2 separate regions of the Homo sapiens genome follow, and region 1 is linked to region 2. Evidence: fine-mapped expression QTL. A gene starts in region 2. The other region holds a variant in brackets. All regions are shown on one strand. Distances are from middle to middle. Region 1 overlaps LOC124903339 (a long non-coding RNA gene). Region 2 holds the start of ADAM21 (ADAM metallopeptidase domain 21).

Evidence for each region. PIP is the estimated chance that this variant, and not a neighbour inherited with it, causes the effect.
Region 1: its variant is fine-mapped to the expression of ADAM21 in fibroblasts (GTEx, PIP above 0.99).

The regions. Positions count from the first base shown.
Region 1 is chr14:70,421,647-70,438,192 of GRCh38, reverse strand. All of the region lies in intron 1 of LOC124903339 (a long non-coding RNA gene), which reads right to left. Among named protein-coding and RNA genes, the nearest start is that of SYNJ2BP-COX16, 13 kb to the right of the region's middle. RefSeq lists a silencer at 12,534-12,734. The variant G/A (reference allele first, on the strand shown) is at 9,417.
Region 2 is chr14:70,443,657-70,460,202 of GRCh38, reverse strand. ADAM21 (ADAM metallopeptidase domain 21) reads right to left here and starts at 8,029. Exons shown (of 2, transcript NM_003813.4): 1 at 7,940-8,029; 2 at 298-2,854. The coding sequence starts at 2,703. The coding sequence ends at 535. LOC124903339 (a long non-coding RNA gene) reads right to left here. Exons shown (of 2, transcript XR_007064237.1): 2 at 15,722-16,370.

The sequences.
Region 1 (16,546 bases), 22 kb after region 2:
GTCCCCTCCCCCAAACCAACGCTCACAAGCCCGAGCGTCTGGCTCTTAAAAACTTCTATTGTTGGGAGACTCTGCATTGCTCACTGGGGAAAAGCCTTTACAGACCCGGTAGGAGAATTAACTTGCCTGGGACAACAATATTCCAATGAAACAGTAGGGAAAACTTTATGGTGGGACGGGAAATATAATTCTGCATTGCCCCACCCAAGCCCATCCAGTTTCCCTTCCTTAAACAACTCTTGGTACCAACTTAATGTTCCAAATATCTGGCAGGCACCCTCTAGCCTCTATTGGATCTGTGGACTGCAGGCATATCGGCAGCTGCCAGCTAAATGGACAGGAGCTTGTGTACTAGGAACAATTAGAACGTCCTTCTTCCTAATCCCTCTAAAGCAGGGAGAAGCCTCAGGTACCCTGTTTATGATGAAACTAAAAGGAGAAATAAAAGGGGCATAGCCATAGGGAATTGGAAGGATAATGAATGGCCCCCTGAGAGAATAATCCAACATTATGGCCCGGCCACCTGGGCAGAAGATGGAATGTATGGATACCACACCCCTTTTACATGCCCAACCACATCATAAGGTTGCAGGCAGTGCTTGAAATCATTACTAATGACACTGCAAGAGCCTTAAATCTGCTGGCCAAGCAAGCCACAAAAATGAGACACGCTATTTATCAAAATAGATTGGCCTTAGACCACCTCCTAGCCCAGGAGGGAGGGGTATGTGGAAAGTTCAATCTAATTGTTGCCTAGAAATTGATGACAATGGAAAAGTCATTGAAGATATAACTGTAAAAATCCAAAAATTAGCCCATGTTTCAGTCCAGATGTGGAGGGGATGGTCTCCAGACTCCCTCTTCGGGGGCTGGTTTTCATCCCTCGGAGGATTCAGGACCTTAGTAGGAATAGTTCTGGCCATATTAGGAGGTTGCTTAATACTCCCTTGTCTCTTACCCCTCCTTGTCAAAAACATCCAATCAGCAATAGAGGCTCTTCTAACAAGCCAAACTACTCAGCTAATGGCTCTAACCAAATAGCAGCCCTTGCCAAGTAAGAACTAACTCCCCATGAAGAATTAAAATTTGATGATGATGCTTTCTATTAAACTTCATTTATAGGAAGCACCAAAGCGGGGAATGAAGCAGAAAACGTAAAAAGAAAATTAAGTAAAAGGAAAAACAACTTTTCCTGTACTTGGCTGACTACCTCCAAGGCCAGCAATAGGCAGAGCCCTAGCAGGGCCTTGATAAAACTATCTGAAAAGCCAGAGCCCAAAGGAACGTGCTCCAGAGACTCTCCCAACACCCCCCCAACCCCGAGCAAGGATAAGAAAAACAAATGCTTTTTATCAGTTCCCCCTTTGAAATTCTTTCCCTATACAATTATCCTTTGATCTGCTCTTACAACTACTTTTGTAACTATTTCTGCAAGTCTGCAAGGATTTTGTAAGCTCCTGTTTTCCAGCTGTGCAGTATGGCAATGGTCACAAGACATGCCTGAGTTGTAAAACCTGTCACTGTTTGATAAACTGCCTTTGTTCTCCTTCTGTAAGCTTGCTTACCCACCTTACAGGTTTTGTGCCCTTTTCAGATGTATGTATAAAAGTCAAGCCCGGTCTTTGTTTGGTGTTTAGCCTTTGGATATGAATCTGTTGAATTGGTGGCCGCCTAAAAAAATCCTCCTCTTCCACACATTGGTCTCTCTGGTTTCCTGATTCCCACAACATTAATACTTAATAAACTCCTATCTATCTATCTATCTATCTGTATGTATGTATGTATTCCATTAGTTCTGTCCCCCTGACTAATACAGATTTTGGTACCAGGAGTGATTCTAGAGGAACAGAATATTAAGGATGGAGTTCTTTTGTTGGTTTTGGGGTTTCTGTGGTTGGTTGCTTAATATGATTAGACCCAAAAATGCTAAGGACTCTACTTCTGATAGTATGGAGAACACTGATAGTACTTGGCATGAACTGTTTAGAGAGTTAGGCAAAATAAGTGCATTTGACACCCTGATTCATTGCTCGTGAGAGGCAAGGAGTTTAGTGACTCAATACATAATACCTTTGACCATATGTGGAGAACAAGGGAACATAATGAAACTGGTTGGTTGCTCCTAAGTCTAGCAGACAAAGTGATGAAAGAAAATGATGAACTCAGGGATTTTATCTCCTGGCCTCAGAGGCAGATGCTGAGCCTCAAATCTGCTAAGATTGCCCTGAGTGACAGTTTTATCTCCTGTAGAGAAAGAGCTGAAATTATGGAAAAACAGAGACAAGCTCTTATCATGTGAGTGGCTGACCTGGAACAAAAGTTGCATACCCAGCCTTGTCAGGTGTCTATTGTTAAAGTGAGGACATTGATTGAAAAAGAATGAGACCCTGCATCTTGGAATGGGGATGTGAAGGAGGACCCTGATGAAGCTGGGGACACTGAGTTTGTAAACTCTGATGAGACTTTCTTTTTTTGCCAGAAGAAACAGCTACCCTATCCCCAGTAGCAGCAGCATCGCCTCCCTGACCCATGCTGCAATCAGCATTTCCACCTTTGTCTGAGGAGATAAACCCTGTGCTGCCTGAGGCAATAGTGATGGCCTCCCCTGAGGCAATCACCAGGCAAGATAATGTTTATTCTCCTCAAGAGCCACTCCCAATGCCCCTGTTTGCTTCTAGACCTATAAGTAGACTAAACTGGCAGGTACCTAGAGGTGAGACTGAGAGTGTGACCCATGAGGAAGTGTGTGACACTTGAAAAGAACTGCTTGAGTTTTCTAATTTACATAAACAGAAATCTAAATAACAGGCATGGGAATGGATATTAATGGTGTGGGATAATGGTGGAAGGAATATAGTGTTGAATCAGGCTGTATTTATTGATCTGGGCCCTCTAACTAGTACTCTGCATTTAATGTTGCAGCTTGGGGAGTTAAAAAAGGGTATGATCAGTTTTTTTTTTGGTTACCTGAAATATGGATTTAAAGATGGCCCACTATGAGTGAACTGGAAATGCCTGATCTCCCTTGATTTAATGTAGAGGAAAGGATCTGAAGGCTTAGGGATATTGGGATGGTGGACTGGATTAGTCACTTTAGACCTACTCATCCCAGCTGGGAGGATCCAGAAGATATAACCTTGACCAATGTCTTGAGAAATAGATTTGTGAGGGCAGCACCTGCATCTTTGAAGAGCCCTGTAATTGCTCTTCTCTGTATGTCAGATCTAACCATGGGAACTGCAGTCACTCAACTACAAAATTTATATACAATGGGAATAATTGGATCCCAAAGTGGCAGAGGCCAAGTGGCAGCACTCAACCATCAAAGTCAAGATGGGCCTAGCTATTGTAATGGACAGCAGAGGCAAAGCAGCAATCAGAATAGTGTGACTTGTGTAGACCTCTGGCATTGGCTAATTAATCATGGTGTTCCTAGAAGTGAAATTGATAGGAAGCCTACTGCATTTCTACTTAATTTATACAAGCAGAAAACTTCTAGGTCAAATGGACAAAAGACTAATTCGAATGATAAAAACAGAGAATCACAGCCCCTCAATCAATTTCCAGACTTGAGCCAGTTTACAGACCCAGAACCCCTTGAATGAAGGGGAGGCTGAGTCCCCTTGAGGAAGGACCCCACTACATCACCAACAATTTATGCAGTTAATCTTTCTCCCATCCTTCCCCAAGGAGATCTCCAAATCCAGCCTTTTACCAGGGTAACTGTGCACTGGGGAAAGGGAAAATGATCAGACATTTCGGGGACTACTGGACACTGGCTCGAGCAGGTCCTGAAGGCACAAGTAAGTTACATGAGGAAGTGGCTCAAATGCCCATGGTCTCCACTCCTGCCACCCTGCCTCCTCTCCCGCAGCCTGCACCGACGGCCTCATGGGAAATTCCCTATGATCAGTTGACAGAGGAAGAGGAGACTACGTAGGGCCTGTTGACAGATGGTTCTGCACGATATCCAGGTACCACCCAAAAATGGACAGCTGTAGCACTGCAGTCCCTTTCTAGGACTTCCCTGGAGGACAGCAGTGAAAAGGAGTCTTCCCAGTGGGCAGAACTTTGAGCAGTGCACCTGGTTGTGCACTTTACATGGAAGGAGAAATGGCCAGATGTGCAATTATATACTGATTCATGGGCTGTAGCAATGGTTTCTCTGGATGGTCAGGGACTTCGAAGAAGCATGGCAGAAAAATTGGTGACAAAGAAATTTGGGAAAGAGGTACGTGGACAGACCTCTCTGAGTGGTCAAAACTGTGAGGACATTTGTATCCCATGTGAGTGCTCACCAACGAGTGACCTCGGCAGAGGAGGAAGAGGAGGATTTTAATAATCAAGTGGATAGGATAACCCATTCTGTGGACACCACTTGGCCTCTTTCCCCAGCCACTCCTGTCATTGCCCAATAAGCCCATGAACAAAGTGGCCATGGTGGCAGGGAAGGAGGTTATGTATGGGCTCAGCAACATGGACTTCCACTTACCAAGGCTGCTCTGGCTATGGCCACTGCTGAGTGCCCAATTTGCCACCAGCAGAGACCAACACTGAGCCCTCAATATGGCACCATTCCTCGGGGTGATCAGCCAGCTACCTGGTGGCAGGTTAATTATATTGGACCTCTTTCATCATGGAAAGAGCAGAGGTTTGTCCTCACTAGAATAGACACTTTCTCCAGATATGGGTTTGCCTATCCTGCATGCAATGCTTCTGCCAAGACTACCATCAGTGGATTCATGGAATGCCTTATCCACCATCATGGTATTCCATACAGCATTGCCTCTGACCAAGGCACTCACTTTATGGCTAAAGAAGTGGTGGCGTAGTTTCATGCTCATGGAATTCACTGGTCTTACCATGTTCTCCATCATCCTGAAGCAGCTGGATTGATAGTAAAATGGTCTTTTGAAGTCACAATTACAACACCTACTAGGTGACAGGACTTTGCAAGCTTTGGGCAAAGTTCTCCAGAAGGCCGTGTATGCTCTGAGTCAGCATCCAATATATGGTACTGTTTCTCCTATAGCCAGGATTCACTGGTCCAGGAATCAAGGGGTGGAAGTGGAAGTGGCACCACTCACCATCCATCACCCCAGTGATCCACTAGCAAAATTTTTGCTTCCTGTTCCTACGACATTACATTCTGCTGGCCTAGAGGTCTTAGTTCAAGAGGGAGGAATGCTGCCACCAGGAGACACAACAATTCCATTAAACTGGAAGTTAAGATTGCCACCTGGACACTTTGGACTCCTCCTACCTTTAAGTCAACAGGCTAAGAAGAAAATTACTGTGTTAGCTGGCATGATTGACCTGGACTATCAAGATGAAATCAGTCTACTAACACACAATGAAGGGAAGGAAGAGTATGCATAGAATACAGGAGATCCATTAGGGCATCTCTTAGTATTACCATGCCCTGTGATTCAGGTCAATGGGAAACTACAACAGCCCAATCCAGGCAGGACCACAGATAGCCCAGACTCTTCAGGAATGAAGGCTTGGGTCATTCCACTAGGAAAAAAAACGCGACCTGCTGAGGTGCTTGCTGAAGGCAAAAGGAATACTGAATGGGTAGTGGTAGAAGGAAGTCATCAGTACCAGTTACGATCATGTGATCAGCTATAGAAATGAGGACTGTAATCGTCATGAGTATTTCCTCCTTCTTTGTTAAAAACATGTTTGTGCATGTATACACTTGTACTAAGAAAACATCTTCAGTTTATTTCCTTTCTCCTTTATCTTGTGACATAAGATTTATTGACTTCATATCAGCATTTAAGTATTGTTAACATTATATAATAGTATTTGGGTATGGGATTGGTGCGTTTCCGGTTGTACGAAGAATAGTTGTGTTATGTTAGGGGTAACTATGACCTTACTATTGTCTTTATTTGAAGATTATGTATGATCTCAGGAGTTGTATATGGGTTCAAGTTGACAAGGGGTGGTCTTCTTATCGTTAATACCGAGTGTCAACTTGATTGGATTGAAGGATGCAAAGTATTAATCCTGGGTGTGTCTGTGAGGGTGTTACCAAATAAGATTAACATATGACTCAGTGGGTTGGGAAAGGCACACCCATCCTTAATCTGGGTGGGCACAATCTGATCAGTTGCCAGCATTGATAGAATATAAACAGGCAGGAAAATGTGAAAAGAGAGACTGGCCTAGCCTCCCAGGCCACACCTTTCTCCACTGCTGGATGCTTCCTGCCCTTGAACACTAGCCAGACTAATAAACAAGAAAAGAGAAAAGAATCAATAAATAAACTAGAAAATCTAGATGAAATGGATAAATTCCTGGAATTTATCCCCTCCCAAGACTAAACCAGGAAGAAGTAGAATTCCTGAATAGATCAATAAAAAGTTCTGTAATTGAGGCAGTATTTAACAGCCTATCAAGCAAGAAAAGCCCAGGGCCAGACGGATTCACAGCTGAATTTTACCAGAGGTACAAAGAGGAGCTGGTACCATTCCTTCTGAAACCATTCCAAACAATAGAAAAAGAGGAACTCCTCCCTAACTCATTTTATGAGGCCAGCATCAACCTGATACCAAAACGTGGCATAGATGCAACAAAAAGAAAATTTCAGTCCTGATGAACATCGATGCAAAAATCCTCAATAAAATACTGGCAAACAGAATCCAGAAGCACATCAAAAAGCTTATCCACCATGATCAAGTCAGCTTCATCCCTGGAATGCAAGGCTGGTTCAACATACACAAATCAATAAACGTAAATCCATCATATAAACAGAACCAGTGACGAAAACCACATGATTATCTCAATAAATGCAGAAAAGGCCTTCGATAACATTCAACACACCTTCAAAAACACTCAGTAAACTAGGCATTGATGGAACATATCTCAAAATAATAAGAGCTATTTATGACAAATCCATAGCCAATATCATACTGAAAGGGCAAAAGCTGGAAGCATTCCCTTTGAAAACTGGCACAAGACAAGGATGCCCTCATCACAACTCCTATTCAAGATATTATTGTAAGTTCTGGCCAGGGCAATTAGGCAAAAGAAAGAAATAAAGGGTATTCAATAGGAAGAGAGGAAATCAAATTGTCTCTGTTTGCAGATGACATGATTGTATACTTAGAAAACCCCATAGTCTTAGCCCAAAAACTCCTAAGCTGATAAGCAACTTCAGCAAAGTCTCAGGATACAAAATCTGTGTGCAAAAATCACAAGCATTCCTATATACCAATAATAGACAAACAGAGAGAGCCAAATCATGAGTGAACTCCCATTCACAATTGCTACAAAGAAAATAAAATACCTGGGAATACAACTTACAAGGGACATGAAGGACCTCTTCAAGGAGAACTACAAACCACTGCTCAAGTAAATAAGAGAAGACACAAACAAATGGAAAAAAATTCCATGCTCATGGATACGAAGAATCAATATCACAAAAATGGCCATGCTGCCAAAGTAATTTATAGATTCAATCTATTCCCATCAAGCTACCATTGACTTTCTTCACAGAAATAGAAAAAGCTACCTTAAATTTCATATGGAACGAAAAAAGAGCCCATATAGCCAAGAATCCTAAGCAAAAAAAAAAAAAAAAAAAGCTGGAGGCATCATGCTACCCAAGTTCAAACTATTCTACAAGGCTACAATAACCAAAACAGCATGGTACTGGTACAAAAACAGATATATAGACCAATGGAATAGAACAGAGGCTTCAGAAATAATATCACACATCTACAACCATCTGATCTTAGACAAACCTGCCAGAAACAAGCAATGGGGAAGGATTCCCAATTTAATAAATGGTGCTGGGAAAACTGGCTAGCCATATGCAGAAAACGGAAACTGGACCCCTTCCTTACACTGTATACAAAAATTAACTCAAGATGGATTAAAGACTTAAATGTAAAACCTAAAACCAGAAAAACCCTAGAAGAAAACCTAGGCAGTACCATTCAGGACATAGACATGGCAAAGACTTCATGATTAAAACACCAAAGAAATTGCAACAAAAGGCAAAATTGAAAAATGGGATCTAATCAAACTAAAGAGCTTCTGCTCAGCGAAAGAAAATATCATCAGAGTGAACAAGCAACCTGAAGAATGGGAGAAAATTTCTGCAATCTATCCATCTGAAAAAGGCCTCATATCCAGAATCTACAAGGAACTAAAGACATTTCTAAGAAAAAAATAACCCCATCAAAATGTGGGTGAAGGATATAAACAGACACATCTCAAAAGAAGACATTTATGAGGCTAACAAACATGAAAAAAAGCTCATCATCACTGGTCATTAGAGAAATGAAAATCAAAACCACAAAAAAATCAATACCACCTCACACCAGTTAGAATGGTGATCATTAAAAAGTCTGGAAACAATAGATGCTGGAGAGGATGTAGAGAAATGTGATTGCTTTTACACTGTTGGTAGGAGTATAAATTAGTTCAACCATTGTGGAAAACAGTGTGGCAATTCCTCAAGGATCTAGAAGCAGAAATACCATTTGACACAGCAATCCCATTACTGGGTATATATCCAAAGGATTATAAATCATTCTACTATAAAGACACATGCACACATATGTTTACTGCAGCACTATTCACAATAGCAAAGACTTGAAATCAACCCAAATGCCCATCAATGATAGACTGGAAACAGAAAATGTGGCACATATACACCATGGAATACTATGCAGCCATAAGAAAGAATGAGTTCATATTCTTTGCAGGAACATGGATGAAGCTGGAAACCATCATCCTCAGCAAACTAGCACAAGAACAGAAAACCAAACACTGCATGTTCTCAATCATAAGTGGAAGTTGAACAATGAGAACACAGGGAGGGGAACATCACACACTGGGGCCTGTTGGGTGGTTGCGGGTAAGGGGAGGGAGGGCATTAGGACAAATACCTAATGCATGCTGGGCTTAAAATCTAGATGATCGGTTAATAGGAGCAGCAAACCACCATGGCACATGTATACCTATGTAAAAAACCTGCACATTCTGCACATATATCCCAGAACTGAAAGTAAAATAAAAATTAGAAAAATTAAAACTTTCAGGAAAAAAAATCAAAAAGTAACAGATGCTGGTGAGGTTGTGGAGAAAAGGTAACCCTTATACACTGTTGGTGGGAGTGTGAATTAGTTCAACTATTGTGGTAAACAGTATGGCGGTTCCTCACAGAGCTAAAAGCAGAACCACCATTCAACTCAGCAGTCCCATTACTGAGTATATATCCAGAGGAATGTAAAGCATTCTACCATAAAGACACATGCACGTGAATGTTCATTGCAGCACTGTTCACAATAGCAAAGACATAGAATCAAGCTAAATGCCCATTAGTGACAGACTGGATAAATAAAATGTGGCACATATACCCCATGGAATATTTTGCGCCAGAAAAAAAGAATGAGATC[G/A]TGTCTTTTGTGGGAACATAGATGGAGCTGGAGGCTATCATCCTTTGCAAACCAACGCAGGAACGGAAAACCAAATACCATGTGTTTTCACTTATAAGTGGAAGCTAAATGATAAGAACTTATGAACACAAAGAAGGAAACAACAGACACTGGGGAATACTTGACGGGGGAGGCTGGGAGAGAGAGGAGCAGAAAAGATAACTATTGGGTCCTGGGCTTAATACCTGAGTGATGTAATAATATGTACAACAAACCCCCGTGACACGTGTATCGGTGTAACAAACGTACACATGTACCCCCAAACCTAAAATTAAAACTAAAAAAAAAAAAAAAAGAAACAAGATTCCAAATTCATATTCTGAGGCTAGCCTAATCCTGATAATACAACTTCATAGTAAAGCATATGTTATGTGCTCTCATTTTAGCCTCTCCACCAGAGAAGTTAACATGCTGGATCAGATTAATACGGTCTTGGGTGCATAGGATGCAACCAATGAACTGAAAATGTGTTATTTTCTATTCTGATAATAAAAGAGCCATCAGAAAAAAATCTGCACTCATATAGCGTGGACACAAATATTTATTTATAGGCTTGCCTCCAGGGCTATGTTATTTCACCTGCCTCTGGCATAATATAATCTGAGGAAATCTAGACTGTTTGAACATACAGAAAACCTTATACGGATTCACTTCATTGAGTATCATGCTGATGGGGCTGCATTGTTGGTTCACTGGAGGTCTTATTAAGAGATATGCATTCCAGGGGTAGGAAAGATTTGGGGACATGATACTTTATTAGAGTATTTAAGGGTACAGTGGTTAAAACCATGGTGGGATATACCCTTGAAGTAAAGGCAAATTGCCGCATTTTGCATTCCCTAGCACAAAGAAAAAGGTGGTGCCTGCTATATGCCTCCATGGGTTGTTGAAGCAAACATTTCACACCTATGAATACTACTCTGGCCCATACACTAGACAATAATGAAGTGATCATCTTTGAGTAGGGCCCAAAACAAGAAATGACCTTGCTGTGGGTCCAGGTTGTTATGTGAAGGAGTTAAGGATATGCCACCCCAAAATATGCCAAATTGGCATATTGATTATTTCAAGCTGAAAGCACTTCAAAAACTGCATTTGCAGTAACAGCCATTTGACCTGCTGTTTTCCACATGTAGCAAACCATAAAATTTCCATATAGACCAGGAGGTCAAGACCAGCCTGGCCAACATGGCAAAACCCCATCTCTACTAAAAATATAAGAATTCCTTTGGGAGGCCGAGGTGGGTGGATCACTTGAGGTCTGGAGTTCAAGACCAGCATGGCCAACATGGTGAAACCCCATCTCTACTAAAAATATAAAAATTATTTTTTATATTTTTATATATAAAACATACAATATAATATTTTATTTAAAACATACATATAAATGTATATAAAAATACAATTAATATTTTATAAAAAATATACAGGCATGGTGGTGCATGTCTGTAATCCCAGCTACTCGGGAGGCTGAGGCAGGAGAATTGGAGAACTGCTTGAGCCTGGAAGGTAGAGGTTGCAGTAAGCCAGGATTGCACCACTGCACTCCAGCCTGGGTGACAGAGTAAGACTCTGTCTCAAAAAAAAAAAAAAAAAAAATTTAGCCAGGTGTGGCAGCACATGCCTATCATCTCAGCTACTCAGGAGGCAGAGGCATGAGAATTGCTTGAGCCTGGGAGGTGGAGGTTGCAGTGAGCTGAGATCACACCACTGTACACCAGCCTGAGTAACAGAGTGAGACTCTGTTGAAAAGAGAAAAAAAAAAGTTCCATAGATGTTGGGAACAGGCCCCCAAATCTGGCCATAAACTGGCCCCAAAACTGGCCATAAGTAAAATCTCTGCAGCACTGTGACATGTTCTTGATGGCCATGACACCCACACTGAAGGTCGTGGATTTACTGGAATGAGGGCAAGGAACACCTGGCCCACCCAGGGTGGAAAACTGCTTAAAGGCGTTCCTAAACCACAAACAATGGCATGAGCAATCTGTGCCTTAAGGACATGTTCCTGCTGCAGATAACTAGCCAGAGCCCATCCCTTTGTTTCGGCCCATCCCTTTGTTTCCCGTAAGGAATACTTTTAGTTAATCTATAATATATAGAAATAATGCTTATCACTGGCTTGCTGTCAATAAATATGTGGGTCAAACTCTGCTTGGGGCTCTCAGCTCTGAAGGCTGTGAATCCCCTGATTTCCCACTCCACATGCTGTATTTGTGTGTGTGTCTTTAATTCCTCCAGCACCACTGGGTTAGGGTCTCCACGACTGAGCTGGTCTCAGCACATAGAGGAAGATGGTTTTCCTGTACTAGGACAAGACAGTAACCCTATTACCAGAGACTGGAAATGGTGCTGCAATGGACCTGTACAAATAAACTTAATAACCCTTACCTTCTACTAGGTTTACCCCTCCCCAGTATATCTCCTAGTGACCTTCCTGGAATTACTGCCCTTAGCCTAGATCCTTTTGTCCTGTCATTTCCTCATAGACGTATTGTTCTTCATCTAAAAAAATATAAAAGCTTTCTGTTTTGGCCATTTCTTCAGATCTTCACTCTCTTGTGAGGATCCCCCTGTACATGTAAAAAGTAATAAAACTTGTATCCTTTTCTCCTCTTAATCTATCTTGCATCAATATCATTCCTAGACCCAGTCAGAGATGGGTGGAGGTGATCCGTACATTCCCTACAAATTTTGGTGCCCAACGTGGGGCATCCTTCACTGGCTGGAACACTGCTTGCTCGAAACTGCTGCACCTGAAATCCTGGCCCTCTGACAAAAGGCCAGCAAAGGTAAGAATTCTTAATACTGTCAGTCTGCTGGATCTCTGCCTGTGGAGAATGGTCAAGGTGAGAGTGGTAAGACTCTTTTCTTCCTCTTTCCCTCTCTAAATTTAGACTGGCAGGAGAAAATATTTATGTGAACTAGTTTTGGGGGCAAAGTGACTTTGGTGTTTGTGAGTAGTCTTGTTTTCTATTTGATCTTTTCCCCCCAGAGTTAATCTTTGCTTTCCTTTTGTCTTTTGGGGTAGTTTGTTATAAGGGGGAAAATCATATGAAGATTCTCATTTCATCTTGTTTTATGTCTTGAGAGCTTGGCTTTGTAACCAAGTGAGAAGTTCTCTCTCTCTGGTCTCTGCCACTTGGGGAACATGATTGTCAAGTCATGTCTGGCAGCCAGCCAAAAGGCTGGGAACTTGAGATGCAAAGTGACAAGCAGGACTCTCCTCGTCTGACTGTGCCAGCTCCCAGGGGTGTTTTCTCTTAAGAAGAAGCTCTAATTTATAAGCAGCTTTTGTAATCTCAACCTTTGTTGCTTAGTGCAACATGGAGGTCACACATAATGACCTCCATTGTATGTCCATATATATGTAATTGTATATGTATTACATATATGTACATTCTATACATACGTGTACATTGTATACATATACATATACATACATGTATACACACATATACAACGTATACATACATGTATACATACACATACAATGTATACATACACGTATACATGCATGTATACATACACATACAATGTATACATACACGTATACGTGTATGTATACATACATATACAATGTATACATACACGTATACGTGTATGTATACATACATATACAATGTATACATGCATGTATACATACATATATACATTGCATACATGCATGTATACATACACATTGCATACATGCATGTATACATACACATTGCATACATGCATGTATACATACACATTGCATACATGCATGTATACATACACATTGCATACATGCATGTATACATACACATTGCATACATGCATGTATACATACACATTGCATACATGCATGTATACATACACATTGCATACATGCATGTATACATACACATTGCATACATGCATGTATACATACACGTATACATACACATTGCATACATGCATGTATACATACACATTGCATACATGCATGTATACATACACATTGCATACATGCATGTATACATACACATTGCATACATGCATGTATACATACACATTGCATACATGCATGTATACATACACATTGCATACATGCATGTATACATACACATTGCATACATGCATGTATACATACACATTGCATACATGCATGTATACATACACATTGCATACATGCATGTATACATACACATTGCATACATGCATGTATACATACACATTGCATACATGCATGTATACATACACATTGCATACATGCATGTATACATACACATTGCATACATGCATGTATACATATACATTGCATACATGCATGTATACATATACATTGCATACATGCATGTATACATATACATTGCATACATGCATGTATACATACAAATACATTGCATACATGCATGTATACATACAAATACATTGCATATGTATTACATATATGTGAACATACAATGTATTACATATGTGGACATATGTATATGTATATGTGGGCATATACTTACATGTGTACACTGTATATGTGTATGTATATGTATATATATACACAAAATTGAGCACTGTAATACATATACACATACATTGTATGGGTGTATGTATACACATACATTGTATGGGTATGCGTATACGCATACATTGTATAGGTTTGCATATACACAATGTAGCACACCATAAAAGTTCCATAGAGATCGGAGTTGTGTAATACATATACACAATGGAGTACTATTTTCCTTATCCATTCATCTGCTGATGGACACTAGGTTGCTTCCAAATCTTGGCTATTATGAATAGTGCTGCAATAAACACAGGATTGCAGACATCTCTGATATACTGATTTAATTTCCTTTGGCTAAACACCTACCAGTGGGATTAGTGGATTTTATGGTAACTGTACCTTCAGTTTGTTGAAGAACCTCCAAATTCTTCTCCATAGTGGTTGTACTAATTTACATTCCCACCAAGTTACAAGTGTTCCCTTTCCTCCACATCCTCGCCAGGATTTGTTACTGCCTGTCTTTCGGATAAAAGCCATTTTAACTGGGGTAAAAAGATATCTTATTATAGTTTCCATTTGCTGATGATCGATGATGTTGAGCATCTTTTCTTTTCTTTTTTTTTTTTTTTTTTTTGAGACGGAGTCTCGCTCTGTCGCCCAGGCTGGAGTGCAGTGGCGCGATCTCGGCTCACTGCAAGCTCCGCCTCCCGGGTTCACGCCATTCTCCTGCCTCAGCCTCCCGAGTAACTGGGACTACAGGCGCCCGCTACCACGCCCGGCTAATTTTTTGTATTTTTAGTAGAGATGGGGTTTCACCGTGTTAGCCGGGATGGTCTCGATCTCCTGACCTCGTGATCCGCCCACCTCGGCCTCCCAAAGTGGAGCATCTTTTCATATACCTGTTTGCCATTAGTATGTCTTCTTTTGAGAAAGGTCTAGTCAGATATTTTGTCCATTTTTTAAATTGAAATATTAGATTTTTTCACTATAAAGTTGTTTGAGCTCCTTACATATTCTGGTTATTAATCCCTTGTCATATGAGTGGCTTGAAAATATTTTCTTCCATTCTGTGGGTTGTCTCTTCATTTTGTTGATAGTTTCCTTTGCTTTGCAGAAGGTTTTTAACTCGACGTGATCCCATTTGTCCATTTTTGCTTTGATTGCCTGTGCTTTTGGGGTATGACTCAAGAAGTTTTTGCCCAGAGCAGTGTCCTGTAGAGTTTCCCCCAATATTTTCTTGTAGTAGTTTCATAGTTTGAGGTCCTAGATATGTCTTTAATCCATTTTTTAAATTTTTATGTATGTTGAGAGACAGGGGGTCTAGTTTCATTCTTCTGCATATGGACGTCCAGTTTTCCTAGCACCATTTATTGATGAGACTGTCTTTTCCCCAATGTATGTTCTTGGCACCTTTGTCAAAAAATTAGTCCATTGTAGATGTATGGGTTTATTTCTGGGCTTTCTCTTCTGTTCCACTGGTGTATGTGACTCATTTTGAGCGCATCAGCAATGTCAGTGAGAACAGCTGAGAGGAATTCAGGCAGTAGAACTAGTACACTATTGACTGCAGCAGGTGATGAGACAGCAAATGACAACTGCAGTGTGATCTTTAGCAAGTGACTGAGTTTAAGTTTCATCATCACTAAAATTCATTCATTCATTGAAAGCCTATTATAAGGCCAGACACGATGGCTTATACCCATAATCCCAATCCTTTGCAGGGGCTGAGGCAGGAGGATTGCCTGAGGCCAGGAGTTTTAGATCAGCCTGGGCAATACAGCAAGACCCTATTGCTACAAAAAATAATTTAAAAAAATAAACAAAAAGAAAGCCAAGTTTGTGTTGGCAACTCTTATAGGTACTGGAGATAAAGCAGTGAACAAGAAGCCGTGGGGCAGATGGCACAGCAAATGCAAAGATCTAAACTAAACCAAATGTATTTGTTTGAGAAACAGAAAAAAGTTCAGTGTAGATGTAATGAATGAGGGAAGGGGGTTGTGGTAGTAGACGAGTTAGAGAGCTTGACAAAAGCCAGATTATCTGGTCTTAGAGGCAATGTTAAGGATATCGATTTTTTTCTACATGAGATGGAAATGACTGAAATATTTAGATTGGGGCATGACATGATCTGATTTACATTTTTGTAAGATTGCTCCAGCTGAGGGAAGAATAGATGGGAGATATCGAGTGAGCAGCAGAAAAAACATTCAGGAAGAACAGTAGAAGTAGAGGCAATACATACTGGTGGTTTGTAATAAGCTGGTAGTATCAGAGATGGTCAGATAGACTGTATTTCATACATAGCAACAGCTATACTTTTGATGGGTTGAATGTAGAATGCAAGGGAAAGAATGGAATCAAAAGCTGTTCTTAAGATATTCATATGAACTGAGTAAACTGAGTTACTCAAGGAAGGGGAACAGCTAAGAGAGGTATCAGTTTAGGGGTATAAGGGTTAGAAATTCTCATTTTATCATAATTTAAGATGCCTGCTAGGCATCTAAATTTTGAGATGTTAGGTAGGCAACTGGGTTACACAAGACTGAAGCTCAGTGAAGAGACATGACAGCTGGCATATTAATGGCATTAGAGCCAGGGGTCTGAATTAGACTTCTTATAAAGATAGCATATATATACAGAA
Region 2 (16,546 bases):
ACACAGGGAGCAAGATCAGGAGATTTCATCAGATAACAATCTGTTTATACTTAACAAAAATTCACTTATTTCTCTCTTTTGGTTACCAAATAAAACCAAGAAGTTGGGTGGGACAAATATTATTATGAACCCTACCCCTTTTCAGATTTTGAAGCAGAACATCAGAAAATTTAAGTAATTTTCCCACATTGATAAATGTCAGTAGAGAGGTAAGCCTCACCCCTGGACACTCTGAGGCAGAAACATCTCATACATTTCCCATAAGTCATCTCTATGCACAAGAAACACAACAAGGACTAAAGGGAGGGAAGGATGTAGCTTTATTTGCTGCTTAAAACAATAAACAATAGATAGAAACATGTTAAGAATAACTTGAACTTAATGACAATGTTTGTGGTACTAATGTAAGGGAAGATCTTTGCAGCTTTCTGGAAATGGTCAGAAATGTGCTCAGTTTCAGGGATGTACTAATGTTTCTACTGCCAAGAGACTAAAGTGTACTAATGCATGGAATATTAAGTTAGAGACATTTTCTTAACCTGATGAATGAGCCTTAGTTTCTTTGGGACCAGAACATTGTCGTAGATACATAAGAAGCCCGACAGTAAACAGGAAAGTCAAAACAGACAAAGAAGGAATCACAATCAGCGGCAAAAAAACTCCTCTCTTTGCAGATGCTGGGCCACTGTCAATACTGCCCCCATAGCCTCTGTGCTGGCAGTAGGGTGGGGACCACCCATAGCCACAGTGGCAGTGATGTTTGTTATTGCAGATCCCCTTCATATTGCAGGTCTCAGGAAGGCAGACATGTGACAAGACAGACAGACTGACACACTTCTTATGGATGCAGATCTTTCCTGGGCCACACACAGTACCATCTTTCACTTCACCAATGTCAGATATGTTCATCCTTAAATGATAGTCAATACCCCAGCAGGTGACACCATTGATATGAGTGTGCTGCAAAGTAAAATGATCTTGGAGAAGAGGAATGTCTCTCACATTCTCACATTGAACTCTCCCACAAAAGACATCAGAGATATGACATTTTAGGTATGTTGTGCCATTTATACCACAGTGACCAAAACGGTTTCCCTGAGAATTGATTTCTTTATAGCAATTCTGAGATGCACTTTTTGCATCTTTACCAAAAATCTCCCTGCAATGCTGGTCATGGTTATTACACCTCTTTTGATAGCAGTAGGCACTGTCACTACAGGGGATCCCGTCCTGCACATATCTATCTTCTGGACACTGATGAGATGTTCCATTGCACCATTCTGGAAGGTCACATTCATTGACCTCTTGTCTACAGAGTTCCCCTGATGGCATGAACTTGCAGTCTTTGCAACAAAGCCCAAAAGCACAGGCAGCCCCAGGCCTTAGAGTGCAGTTCAACAGACAACAGGCGTCTTGTTCACACTGCTGTACGGATCCACAGTCACACTGCTCTTCTCTTTCAACCACACCATTCCCACAGCGCTTTAGCATAAAGATTTCCCCCAATCTTGGAGGATTATGCAGACATGATCCCTGGTTTAAGGTGGTCTTCATAAAATCAGCGTAACTGCAATTGGTGAATTTCTCTGCTGGCACTCTAAAAGTATTCATGATGCAACCTCTTTCCCCACAAAAACAGAATTCTTCATCATGCTGCATACCTAACGTATGACCTAACTCATGGGCCACAGTGTTGGCAAAAAGAGACCAGGTATCTCCTTGAAAATTATCAACTCCACAATCAATAGGTGGACGACATATTCCTGCAACATAGGCTAGGCCAAGTATACTTATAAGTGAATTTTTTATGAACATATGTGCAGCATCATGCTGTAGCTGGGAAAGACTGATTTGTTTCCATTGAGAGAAATCGTTCAGGACCTGTTCTATGCTTGTCATTGGGAAAACATTTCCTTGATTCCAAATTTCAATTCCAATCAAAATTATGTAAGTACCTAACTGCTTATACATGGAATCCACTATGTTGACAACAAGAAATACATCCTCTTGCACCTTTGAGATGTTGCTTTGAGAGTAAATGAAGAAATCATGGTTCACCACAACAACTAGCTCCAGAAACCATGCATGAGTCCACCAGTCACCAGCAGATTTTGGTTCCAGAGCTGAGTTCTCAGCCTCTTCAAATTCCAACTGTTGGCGTGCTACTTCCTTCTCTGTTAAGCCACATCTCATAGCTGGGAATTGTGTCTCATTACTGTTTATCTTATAAACCAGGTGTTCAAATGTGGCAGAGTGCCTGATGGGTTCAATTTCATAAGTGAGGCCACTTATTTTTAATACTCCTCGAAAGCCCCCAAAACAAGCACTGAACACAACCAGAGACTCAGGGGCTGCCTCCACGTAACCATGATAGTAACAGTCATCTGGGATGAAGAGCTGATCCTCCAGGAGTGCACGGTCATCTGTGTAGGTGAACACTGGGAGGTGTCTAGAAACTAAGAGCTTCTTGACCCTCATATGAACAACGTGTTTCTGGCCCCCAAACCGCAGACTATAGGAGAGCCATCCAGGAGCCTTTGCACTTCTGCCCCTGCTGATCACCTTCAAGGGGATCACCACTTCCGGGGAAGTGAAATGCTGGGAGGGCCCAGCCTGACAGTAGCCGGAAATAGACAAAAATACCCCAAGCCAGAGCAGCAGAAGAGTGACTCTGATGTACACGAGGGTCCCATCCACTGCCATTATGAAGCTGTCGTTATGGAGCCATCTGTCCAGAGCAGAAGAGGACAAGGTGTGAGGCACTGCTGGTCTGGCTTCTCCCTCTAAGCTGCTCAGGATGCAGGGCTGACCCTGTGGATCTGTGTCCTGGCAGAGTTAGATCAGAACTGCAGTGCTGGAAGTAAAAATAAAAAGATGGGTTGGAAAGGTGATAAGTAAGGAATCAGGAGAGAAAAAGAATGAAGTAGTGAAAAACTGGTTGATGAATCAAGAAAATGCTTTGGATTTGCTTTTAGTAAATGAGGGTGGGGATTTAGGGGGTATAGAGGAGACAACATTGGCCACGTGGTGATAATAGTTGAAGTTGGAAGATGGGTACTTAAATAGTTATCTCAGTCTTTACAGGCAGTATGGAATGTCCATAATAAAAAGTAAAAGCAAAAGTAAAGAAACTTAAGAGTAGGGTGACTCTATATATCAAATTGTCCAAGATAATATTAGTTTATGCCTGTTGCCCTTGCAATATCTATTGATAGTGTCTCCTTTGACTATCAAAACTGGAGACATCAAAAATAATCACAATTCTGTGTCAAGTTGCATCAGTCTTATGATATACTTTAGTTTCTTTATCTCAAAGTTATTTACTATTCCTCATTGTATTCATCTTTACTCATAACTTCATTAGACTGAAAGATTCTTGACTGCAGGGTTTATGATTTTCGTTCATTTTAGTATCCTCTGTAATGCCTCATATAGCTCTATGTACAATGAAAAATGGAAAAACGGAGGAGGGATTGCAAAATGTCTTGGATTATAAGTGAATGCTACTAAAATGTGTTCATATTGTAGTATAATTTTTAGAAAAGAAAATTCATGAAACACTGACATCATTTAAGGGTATGGAGAGAATAATGTTGTTCTCTCCAGTTAGCTACAGGAGAGTCCCAAAGACAAAACGAAATGCTTTCAGAAGAGAAAATGAGAATCTATGCAGTTTAAAGGTCTTCCGAAAAGGAACTCTTTTCTTATTAGGGCAAAAACCATTGTAGAGTCTAGTATTTTAGGATCGCCAGGGAAGAGTCTGAGTGTTTGCTCAAATATATTTACCAACAGTTTTTGAAAGTGGGGAATTTCTGCACCTGTCATACAGTCTGGCTGGCAACACTTATCCATTTCTTTTTCTATTTATTAAACAAGTCTTTATGTGTTTGGAGCATACAAAGTGCAGGACATTGTGCTAGATATTAGAGAAAGAAAATCAAAATACAGAGCATTAAATAAATTATCAATTTAGTGCAGAAACTGTGGCAGGAGCAAGAATAAGCTTTAGGAGGTCAGTAATATTGTATTCAATATTTTATGTATTTCATGACTTTTTTTGCTGAGGAGAGTATCCATATATTTCATCATAGTCTCAAATGACTGTCAAAAGTGAGGCTAGTAAGCACTGAGCATGTGTAGAAACAAACAAAAAACAGATAATTATAATATAATATGATCAAAACCAGACAAAGTTTATGCTTCAGGGATCCTCACTGTACAGACCTCTATAAAGACCCTGTAAGGGGCTCAGCAATGGACTTTATGAAAGTCATATAATTATGAGTAATCAAAATTAGTCACTATACAAGAAAAATCTCAAACACCCTGAAATATTACATCGCATACATAAAAGACTTAATAGAGGTTTTCTAAAATTTGACAATAGTAAATTTAATTATTTATCTCATTACCAATAACAAGCTGTGAAGCTGAATTTTCTTTTCTAAACTATTAATAATACAAAATGAATTTTTATTAAACATACTAGGGAAAGGCAAATGCCTTTCAGTTCTTGCCGTAGAAATTATAACAAAATAATTCTCTTAAGGGAGGTAATTAAATAAGCAATTTAAAAACTATAGGGAAAAGGTATCATAAAAGTGAGTTAGGAAGTTGATTAATGTAATACTGAGGGGATTAAATTTTGTGATGTTTATGGTGTTTTCAACCTTTTAATATTTATAATTTGTTGCAGCTTCTTTCTTATGCTAAATAAATCCTCATTTTCATACTTATTTTCTGCAATTGTAACTTGGTATTATTTTTCTTAAAGTGGGCCCCTCATCTTGTACGTGCATCAGGCCCAAAAACTTAATTTCACCTCTGACTGTGATCAACATATTGATGAAGGTAGGTGCTATTTCTTATAAGAACAAAAAGGAAAAGCACTTAAATCAAGCTAATCTAAGAGGACTTACACAGAAGATATAAAAATGAACATGCCTGACCCAACACCAATCATCTCCTGGATTTTGAATCCATTTCTAATCAATGCTTTCTTTGCCCTGATTCAAGTTTCCTTATATTCTCTTCTTATACCTTCCCTTGTGCTTTCTGGAGTCTTCCTTTAAAGACAAAAGGAGAGAGAGAGAGAACCAACTCCATCCTGTACCTCTTCACAGAAAGCTCCCTACATCTACTTACCGTATTGAACCTGAGCTTTAATAGAATTTACTGCTTGCCTAAAGGCTTCCTCTTGAGAAACTCCATCCTCAGAAGTCACATGCACCACAAGGACCAGAGTTCCTGTTCTCCACAGCCCACAACATGAACACCAAATCATTTATCCTGCAATATCTGACTACACTATTTTTAGATGTCTCTTCAACCACCCTTATCACACTTGGACAAAATTCAAAGGCTCTGGCCTCTGACTGATAAAATTATTCTCCACCAAAATTCCTACCCTCAACTTAAAGTAATATTAGCAAGTATATAGAAAACCCATCTGAAAACAAGACAGGGTTTTTTAAAGTTTTTTTTAACCTCTTCAATTCATCTTCAGTGTAATTCAGCCCACCCACTCATAGTCATAATGTATACCTTGTCAACACACAAAAAATTTCATATATCCTAATCAATTTACCAACAATTTTAGTTCTCCCAGCTCTCCCCCTTACTTCTGCTATACCTGTTTCTCAAACCCAAAGAAAACCCAAATACTTTTCTTTCATCATCCCCCATTTCTCTTAATGTTCTTGTCTTCCAATCCATTCAGCTCTGCTACCAGTTTCATCCCTTCAAGCACTGTATGCCAAAATCTTTGACTCTAGAGAGTCCTAAATGTGACAGAGATTGTCGGGGAATGGGGGGTGGGCAGGAACTGCATTAATTCTTCACATACTTCCTCCACTCCTACATCAAAGCTACTAATGCTGCTCTGAAAAAAAAAAAATCCCAAAACCAATGTGTTTGTGAAAGGCTTAAAAAGAGAATATAGAAATCAAAACTGAAATGGCTTGTCCTGGATCCCCAGCCTAAGGAATAGAGATATAAAATCCAGTAGATATTTCAAAACTTCCTATGCCATATTGCTCTTTTCTTTATTCTCCTGGATATTGCATTTGCACCTCCTCAATCTTCTGAGTTTTCCTCATTTATGTATAGTGCCAGCAGCTGAAAATCCATTCTCATTGTCTCTCAATCACAGTAGAATTAGTTAACCAAGTACCTTTCCTTTCTAATATAAAGTATTTAAGGTTTTTTTCCTTTTCTTGTCCTAGACTGGCTATGTGGATGCTGGAAGATGGGGAAAACTTGTTTCAAGCTGAACATTATCCTTGCCATTAACTTGCTTAAAGAGGCTGGATTCATCTGGGCAGTTTTCACTGCTGCAAGTTAGGCACCTTATTCCACAAGGTGCAAGTAGCATGGAAGAGAAAAGCAAAGTTCATAGGCAAAACTTCCAAGAACAAAGATCTCTGAATTGGGATGAAATTCTAACTGCCAGATTTGCTCTCTATATCTCTCTTGATATGTTTTCTACTTACTATGGAGTGACAGTTGTTGTGGATGGGAGGATTGAAAATGGGAAGAACTAATCAAAGATATAATGTTGTGGAAAGGACTGATAAGCTACACCAACCTGTGTCATATTATTCTTTTTCTTGGAGCTCAGCATGAGAGCAGGCAATAACAGGAGAATAACTTTAAAAAAATCTTTAAAACCAGACTCATTGTCTTCATTCCTAGGACTTACAGAGACCAAAGCTCCTGAAGTACCATCATTCTACCATGGATACTGTGAAGTGGTACCACCGTAAATCCATGTCCTCTAATGTCAGCGGACTATCAGGTGAGCCAACAGCCCTCTTCTGCATGTTTGATAAACTCTTCCTTTCCCCACAGCTATTTCAAATTCATCAAGACCGCTCTCTACCCATCTTCCCTCTTATTCCAATGCCCTAATGCACTGTTTTCCTATCTGTCTGTCACTAATATCTGTCCCATTAGAGTCATGGAAGTAATTCAGCTGGCTATAGCCTGCAGTCTTTTTCCTTGAGGAAATAGAACAGAAATATCAGAAGGCATCCCTAGAAGATCCTTAGCAACCTTGCACACACAGTGCCAAATATGTGGGGTGTAAGTGTGTGTAAAGCCACAATGTCATAATATAAAGTGGATTTCTTTCTCTGGAATATGATACACACACACACACACACACACGCCAAATTCAAAGATAAAATGGTTTCTGGGCCTTTCACCATCTGAATCTGCCTATATCCACCTCTTCTCTACCTTACTACCTCTCTAGTCTCATTAGCCCCTCATGGTTCCAGATCATCTCTCCCACCTACTTGAGGACTGTTTCTATTAATTTTCCCTATTCTCAACTGCATCTTCATCTTCTACTACTTTATCTATTCCTTACTGGCAATTGAGGTGACTACCTCATCCTGATTTTCCCAGGACTGTCCTGGTTTTAAAACTGAAAGTGCTGCACCCAGCAATCCCCTCAGTCTCAACCAAACTGGAATGGTTGGTCACCCTACCTACATCCATGCTCAAGTCACTCATATCTTTAAAAATGAAAACACGCCGGGCGCGGTGGCTCACGCCTGTAATACCAGCACTTTGGGAGGCCGAGGAGGGCGGATCACGAGGTCAGGAGATCGAGACCATCCTGGCTAACATGGTGAAACCCCGTTTCTACTAAAAATACAAAAAAATCAGCCAGGCGTGGTGGCGGGCACCTGCAGTCCCAGCTACTCAGGAGGCTGAGGGAGGAGAATGGTGTGAACCCAGGAGGCAGAGCTTGCAGTCAGCTGAGATCGCGCCACTGCACTCCAGCCTGGGCGACAGAGTGAGACTCCATCTCAAAACAAACAAACAAACAAAAAAAATGAAAACAAAACAAAAATTAAGAGACTTCACATTATCCAGTGGACTACTCTGGATACCAAATTATGCATAGAACCAAACTTTATGAATGACTTACCATCAGAAGAAACAGTAGTTTCCATGGCCATTTCTGTCTAGATGGTTTATACCATGCTTTATCAATGGTTTGTAGCTGAGGCCACAGAACAAAGGGAAACATAAGCCCTCTCCCTTTTGTCTCTCAGGTGACTAAATTCTAGATTTAGCTACTTAGCAACAAGGAACTTTCAATTCTACAGAAATAATAATAGGCTCTGAAGAATATCTTGCTCTCATCCTGCCATTTCTATACTCACTTCCGAATTTAATACAATTGGAATTGGGTTGTCTCCTCACCTCCAGTCTATGTCCCCTGACAGCACAGGTTTGTAATTTTGCTGGTGTCATTGCATTGGTCTAGACTGTCTAATCACTTTTCCCATTGAACTGAATTATAGTAACTTTATAGGGCAAGATCAAATTCCACTTCCATTATCAAATCTTTCCTAAATAATCCAGAAAACATTAACATCCTGTAACTCTCTTTATAACTTTAATATGCAATACATTTTTGTGTGACAAAATTTATATCCTTGCTATTTTCTGTTTCATACGTGAGTTTTAAAAATTGCATCTCCTATTAGACTATAATGTTTTGGAGAAAAGTATGCTCAAAATGATTGGTGGAGAATTTATGGTATAGTGTTTGGTAAAATATATAATCAATAAGATGAGTTCAATTTATAAAAACTACATAGGATAAAGACTAATTTAATAAAATATTAACTCTAACTTTGGGAATTTCTGTTATAGATTTTTGTCAACTCCTAATTTACCTGGTAGAATCAGAGCCTCATGGGATAACCATCAATTAGAAGCAGTTTTAATTACAGACCCCTTCCATTTCCTGCCAGGAAAAGATTCTACTATTTATGCTGGTTTCTTTAGAAATCTGACAAGGTTCCTTTTGATAAACTGTTTTGCTCATACATGCAAAACTGGAGACACCTCTGCCTTAGGAGGGGTAGATACAAAGAGGTTTGTCTTCCGCTGGACTCAGTGGATAACATCTACTTCTATACCAGACATCATTTACAATGAGGTATACATAGCCCCAAAAAATTAGAGTAGAGGAAACCACATACATTCAATCATGGAAAAAGCTTAGTAGCAAGCCAGTAGCACTAGTAAGCAGAGCGAAGAAACTCTACGCAGGGAGAAAGATAATTGAGGAAGAATAGAATGCCTGCTTCAGGCAGAACAAATAGTAACCTGCAAGATCCATAGGTGGGAAAAGAATGAAACCTTCCCAAAGGAGCTTGGCTTGATCTCTCTAGCTGTAAGAAGGAGTAAATTTATTTCTTCTTCTTCTTTTTCTTTTTCTTTTTTTTTTTTGACAGGGTCTCACTCTGTCACCCGGGCTGGAGTGCAGCTGTTTTTTGTTTGTTTGTTTGTTTGTATCTTTTATAGAGATAGGGTTTGTCCATGTTGGTCAGGCTGGTCTCAAACTCCTGGGCTCAAGTGATCTGGCCTCCCAAATTGCTAGGATTACAGGCACCCGGACAACATTTATTTCTTTGTGGAATCAGCACTAAGAACTTCTGGTTCCAGAAAAGATAGAGTAGACACATTTCTTCCTATTATTCCTAGTAAGTATAGTAAGTCCTCAATGTCATGAATAGGTTCTTGGAAACTGCAACTTTAGGTGAAACAATGTACAGTAGGTCCTGAAATAACATTGTTTTGTCCAATGTGTTTCATTATAACACTGATGAGACAAATAAAAATTTGTTTTGTTGTATGTTACTTTGCACTGTTAAAGTCACAGTTTCTGAGAACCTATTGCTGATGTGAGGACTTACTGTGCAAGTAAAAACACTGTATTTTAAATAGAAAACAAACATAAGAAGGTTAAGAAAGGTAGAGAAAATCATGCAGAGAAGGTACCTACCCTGGGATCTAAGGAATAACATGGTGGTGAATCCCTGAGTTTTCTTTTAACCTCAAGCAATCTGGAGAAGCCTATAACATTTTAATGCCAACAGACATAGAACAAAAAGACTCAAGAAGTTTGCTGTCTGTAGCCAAAGGACTCAGAAATGAGCAGTCTGGCGAGACAGAAAACTTTTAGAAAATAACCATCCTTCTCCACCCAAATGTCATGGGAAAACTTGTATCCCCACATGCACTTCATCAGCAAAAGCCACATGGGGAGCTTAAACTTTCAAATCTTCCCAGCTGTAACGTGGCATCCCCTCCCCCACCCCACTCACTGGGGTGGTGTCAGAGAAGGTCAAGTTGAGTTCTGAGACTTTCCTCCTTGTCATGCAGTAAATGAGGCCCTGATATAGTTTGAATGTTTGTTCCCTCAAAATCTAATGTTAAAACATGATCCCCAATGTTACAAGTGAGGTGTGATAGAAGGTGTTTGGCTGGATCCCTCATATATGGCTTGGTGCTGTCCTTGCAGGAATGAGTGAGTTCTTACTCTATGAGTTCACATGAGAGCTGGTTGCCTAGCCAAGCTCTAGGAACAGGGCCACCACCCTTCAGACCCCTGAATGATAGAGCCACCAGCAGCTTGTACCCTTAGCCTAAAAACACTGCAGGCACTCAATACCAATCTGTGAGGGCAGCCACAGGCGCTGCACCCTGCAAAGCCGCAGGGGCAGAGCTGCCCAAGGCCTTGGGGAGCCCACCCCTTGCACTAGTGTGGGCTGAATACAGGACATGGAGTCAAGGATTATTTTAAAGCTTTAAGGTTTAATGTCTGCCCTGCTGGGCTTCAGACTTGCATGGGGCCTGTTGCCCCATTTTCTTTTGGCCAATTTATCCCTTTTGGAATGAAAATGTTTGACAAATGCCTGTGCCACCATTTAATCCTACAGGCACATAGGTGGAAGAAACCTGCCTTGAGTATCAGATGAGACTTTGGACTTTGGACTTTTAATTGAATTGATGCTAAAATGAATTCAGACTTTAGGGGACTACTGAAAAGGGATAATTGTGTTTTGCAATGTGAAAAAAAAAACATGAAATTTGGGGTCCTGGGAAAAAATGATATAGTTTGGATGTTTTTACCCTCCAAGTCTGATGTTAAAATATAATCCCCAGTGTTAGAGGTGGGGCCTAGTGGGACACGTTTGGAGCATGGGGGTGAGTCCTTCATGAATACATTGGTGGTGTCCTCATGGTAATGAATGAGTTATTCCTCTATGAGTTCATGTGAGATCTGGTTGTTTAAAAGAGCCTGGCACCTCCTCCCTCTCTCACTTTTTTCCTCTCTCACCATGTGACACACTGGCTCCCCTTTGCCCTTTGCCTTCAGTCATGATTGTAAGCCTCCTGAGAACCTCGCCAGGAGCAGATACAAGCACTAGGCTTCTTGTACAGCCTGCAGAACCATGAGCCAAATAAACCACTTTTCTTTATAAATTACCCAGTCTCAGGTTGCTTCATAGCAACACAAAACAAACACTGGCTCCTATTTCACAATGTCAGTGGAGGTCACTTGGACAGCTGTAATGAGGCATCTTTCAACTTCCCAGCTAAGATGGCGTCAACAGAGGCCTAGAGAGGAGGATGAACTTTTCCATTTGAACAGCAGATGTGAGCTGCCCTTTACCCCTGGCATATCAACAGAAATTAAGTGGAGAACCTGGAAAGATGCCAGCGTTTAGCAACAGCAAAGTAATGCCATTCTTACCCTACTGGTGCAACATCATAAGGATCCTGATAAAAGAAAAAATTTAATAAGATCTAGGGCCTCACAACATAACACCCAAAGTGTTCAGAATACAGTGGAGGCCAGGCGCAGTGGCTCACGCCTGTAATCCCAGCACGTTGGAAGTCCAAGGTGGGCGGATCATGAGGTCAGGAGTTTGAGACCAGCCTGGCCAATATGGTGAAACCATGTCTCTACTAAAAAAAACAAAAAATACAAAATTAGCCAAGCATGGTGGTGTGCGCCTGTAATCTTAGCTAATAGGGAGGCTGAGGCAGGAGAATCACTTGAATCCTGGAGGTGGAGGTTGCAGTGAGCCGAGATCATGCCACTGCACTCCAGCCTGGGCGACAGAGCAAGACTCCATCTCAAAACAATACAAAAAACAGAATACAATGAAAAATCACTAGTTATTTATAAAACCAGGAAAATCTTAACTTGAATGACAAAAAGACAACAGATGCTGACTCTGAGATGATGCAGATGTTAGTATTATCTGATAAGGATTTTGAGACAGACATCATGAACTGCTTCAATGAGCAATTACAAATCTGACTAAAATGAAAAAAATAGAGACTTGGAACAAAAAAATGAGAAAGTCTCAGGAAAGAAATATAAAATATAAAGATGAAAGTAATAGAAATTTTAGAACTGGAAACTACAATAACCAAATCCAAACTCACTGGATGGGCTCAACAGCAGGACAGAGAATAGAGAAAATTATCAGCAAACTTGAACATAGAGAAATAGTTAATACCAAACCTTTTGTTAGATTTATACCTAAGTATGTCATTTTTGGGAGGTGTTAATATAAATGGTTATATTCCAAAGAGATCAAATCAGATCTGTACAAAACTGTTTATTGTGGGATAATGTGTACTACCAAAGGTTTGTGCACAATTCTAATTCCATCATTAGAAAGCTATTAGGTAAACAGCAATGCTTCTACATCATGAATAATATGCAGTCATAAATGAAAAAGGATTATCTCTTTACATTAATATTCAGTGATTTCCAGGGTCAGTAAGCTTAAAAAACAAGATTAAGAGAAGTATATATGGCATACTACATTTTGTGTTAGGAAGGAGAAAAAGGAGAATTCTGAGAAGATGACAATGTTGAGACTTCGATCCATCTATTAGGGAAGATAGAGCTGACAGATGCAGGAGGCAGATAAGGGAACCTGCCCAGGGTCTTGCCTGGGCATGCTCACAATGAACTGGGGGCCTGTATGTTCACTGGGAGAATGGGGTGGAGCCACCAGGAATTCACACCTTATGCTGGGGGAGGGGCCCGGCCTCTTCAGCTTGTGTGAAGTGGTCTGGTCTTCAATCTGTGAGGTGGTAGCATGTTGGCAGGACCACTTCTTTCTTTGCTGAGCTTTCTTTTTGCCTAATAGATCTACCCTCCTCATCCTTCAATTTGTCCACGTGCCTAATTTTTCCTGGTTGTGAGACAGAAACCTGGATTTTAGCTGAACTAAGGAGCAAAAAATCCTGCATCATTTGGTAGCCTGTAGAGGGACATGAGGAGGGGTGAGTAAAGTGCGGACCCAAAAATCTCCTTCCCTTTCATTTCTGAGCCTTTTTGTCCTCACACTAAGTCTGAGGGTAGAGGAAACTGCTCCCCCGCCCCCCAACACCCATCACTCTTGGGGGTCAGGAACTTTGGCCCTGGTCCAAGCCAGTCTTTTCTATGGCATTTTCCTTCTTTTTGGGGGAACTGTAATGGCATCTATCATTTCTTTTACAATATTGGGGATGTTTCACCCCCACCCCAGTGGCCTCAGGTACACGTACAGGATTGACAGGTGAGCAGTTGCTCCCCGCCCCTCTTCCCTTTTGGCTGGGGCACATGGCTGTGTCTGCTGCATGTGCGTGCCAAACACACACACACAGGCCAACAGCCACGCAGGGCAAAAATGAACCACAGCCACTACCCAGGCCCCAAGGCACCTCAGGGTCCCATGCCCTGCACAAACAGCTGGCCAGCGTTCCCCACCACATACCCCTGGCGTCTTCCCCTCCCCTGGCCAAGGGGTCCAGCTCAGTCCAAACCCCAGGGAAGAAATAGCAATTAAAAGTTTCTCTCCCAGTTGAAGAAACTCATTTGCATAAGAATAAGAGGTTTCTTCCCCAGGCATCTTTTTCTTTTCTCCATTTTTCAGCAATTAACACAGCGTTGTATTTAGGTTTTTTTTTTTTCCTTTCTCCACCAGGTCAGAAGTTAACTTTTATGTGAGAGGCATTTTTTTTCCTTTTAGAAGACGTTTTACTAGGTTGGGACCCCAATTCACAAGACACCCTTTTCTATCCCTTGTTGGAGGAAGACTCAAATTCACAGCTTCACCTTAGCATTCTGCTTATAAGGAGTTCATGCAACCCAACCCCCCAGAAACATTTTTGTCCCAAATTCAATTCCAAGTTCAGGAACTCAAAGGCTACTGACAGCAGGGGAGATAGGGCATACGTGGGTAAGAGAGGATGATCCCACCCCCTAGACCCCTCTGTTAACATGGGTGAAAGCTGCTTTGATACCCATGGGTGGCAACCTGTTGTGATTGCCAGAACTCAGAAATATAAGGATGGAGTAAAGAAAGAGACATGCTTTGCTTTCTCTACCTCATGTACCATGGGTATTCGCTAGGAAAAGAAGGGAACTGGGGACACCTTGCTCCTCTCTTTCTAGATGAGTAGCCATTCATCTTCCATCTGTACCTCTTTGAATGCATCCTGAGTCCTGGGTCTCCTTTGAAAAAATGCCGTATTTTTCCTTTTTCCTCCTCTGTCCTCTGTTCACAGATGGAAGGTTGTGTCCCCATGCTGCAGGACACTCCCCTCAGATGTAGCCTCCAAACTGGGAAAAGTTAACTTCCCAAGCTTTAAACTAGTTGTCTTGGGATTGAGCTCAGTGGGGAGGGAACACAGAAGCCTGACATGCTGGCAAAAGGGGCCTGACATGCTGGCAAAAGGGTAAGAGTGGTTTTTTTATTTTACCAGTTGAGCTTTTGGCCCCACTCTCCTGTGCAAACTGGTAAAGGGAATGATAAGGATCACTGTTTATATTCTCTGTAAAGTTTGTAGAGTTTTAATTATAAAAAAGGATTCATGAGGTTGGTCTTAAGCTGTAGCCAATCTGGTGTGCTTTGCATGCTTCTCTATATGGTTCTGTAAGAAAGAGGGGTACCTTAGGTTGGGATGTGGGCCTAGGACTCTATAGGCCTTCTACTCAAGCCAGCCTGGAAAACTGGTCAGTGGCAAACTTTGCTGAAGGCCTCCATCATATTTTATGTACTTGGAAGGATGACCTTTAACCATGTGGCAGTGCTTTGTTTTAGCCTCTGCCATTTTACAATGGTGGCCCAGGTTCAATCCCGGCTTAGGGAATGAGTTCTTTCTGGTTCGATATCTGTGACCTTTACCATTTGTTGATTCTCTTCCCCTCCATGAACTACCTTGAATTTTCCTTTCTGTGAGCACCTGGGAAGTTACCTTTCATAAAGTTCAAAAGCTAGAAATATTGGCTGCTTGGCATGGCTAAAGTTGCATAATAAGGGATTTAAAAGGACTTTCTTAAAGAGTGCTTATCTTAACTAAAAGTGGATATCCAAGTTATAGGTATATTTAAAACGCCTTTATGTTTTTCTCTTCTTGGATCTTGTTTTGTTGGAAAAAGGTTTTTTTTTTCTCAGACAGCTGAATTCTTTTTCTCCCTTAAGGCATGCATGAGAGGCCCTAAAATAATTTCTGATGGCCTGGGGCTGCTTGGGCAAAACAGAAAAGGTGCCACAGATTCCATTTTGGGAGAGACCTCTGTTTTCCTCACGGAGCCCCAGGAATTGGAGGCAGATGAATCCCTCTCAAAATCTGATTTTGTCTTCCAGCTATACCTGTTTTTTAGGCCCTAGAAACTGCATGCTTTCCTAGCCATGCTCTCAAAGGGCCCACTCAGAGGTGAACAGTCCAATTAAGAGATTGCAGAACAGAAAATCTGATAACTACTGGATCTGCTTCTGCTTGTCTGTGTAGTTACATAGGTGTAGTGTGTGATGTCTATTTTAAAAAAGAGCTCTAATTAATTGACTTGAAGGATAAGCACTAGGATCAAATATTTTTGAAGAAAAAATAAACACTGTAATGCCTTTTAGTTCATGTGACTTTAATCATCAAGAAATAAAAAAAGACTTATGGATTCTGAACCCCAAAAATTTGAGACAGGTCTCAGTTAATTTAGAAAGTTTATCTTGCCACGGTTGAGGATGTGGCCATGACACAGCCTCAGGAGGTCCTGAAGACATGTGCCCAAGGTGATTGGGGCACAGCTTGGTTTTATACATTTTAGGGACACATGAGACATCAATCAATATATGCAAGAAGTACATCAGTTCCATCCAGAAAGGTGGAGACAATTCAAAGTAAGGCCCCCCCAACTGGGGGCTTCCACGTCACAGGTAGGTGAGAGATAGATGGTTGCATTTTTTTGAGTTTCTGTTAAGTATTTCCAAAGGAAGCAATCAGAATATGCATCTATCTCTGTGAGCAGAAAGATGACTTTGAATAGAATGGGAGGCAGATTTGCCCTGAGTGGTTCCCAGCTTGAGGGGGCCAAGATATTTTCCTTTCACATTTCCCCCCTTTTCTTTTTAAAAATCTTTTGGAGAAAGTATTTTACAAGGAAATGAGTCTCTGGTCTTGTTTCATCTGATCTCTCGTGGCTAGGATGGTTTATTTCTAGATGTGTAGGTTGCAATAGCTCATTTTTAGCAGGTTGTATAAAGTCTCATGTCCTGTGAAGAGAAAATAGTGGTGTGATGGTTAATACTGAGTGTGAACTTGATTGGATTGAAGGATACAAAGAATTGATCCTGGGTGTGTTTGTGAGGTTTTTGCCAAAGGAGATTAACATTTGACTCAGTGAGCTGGGAAAGGCAGATTGGGTGGGCACAATCTAATTAGCTGCCAG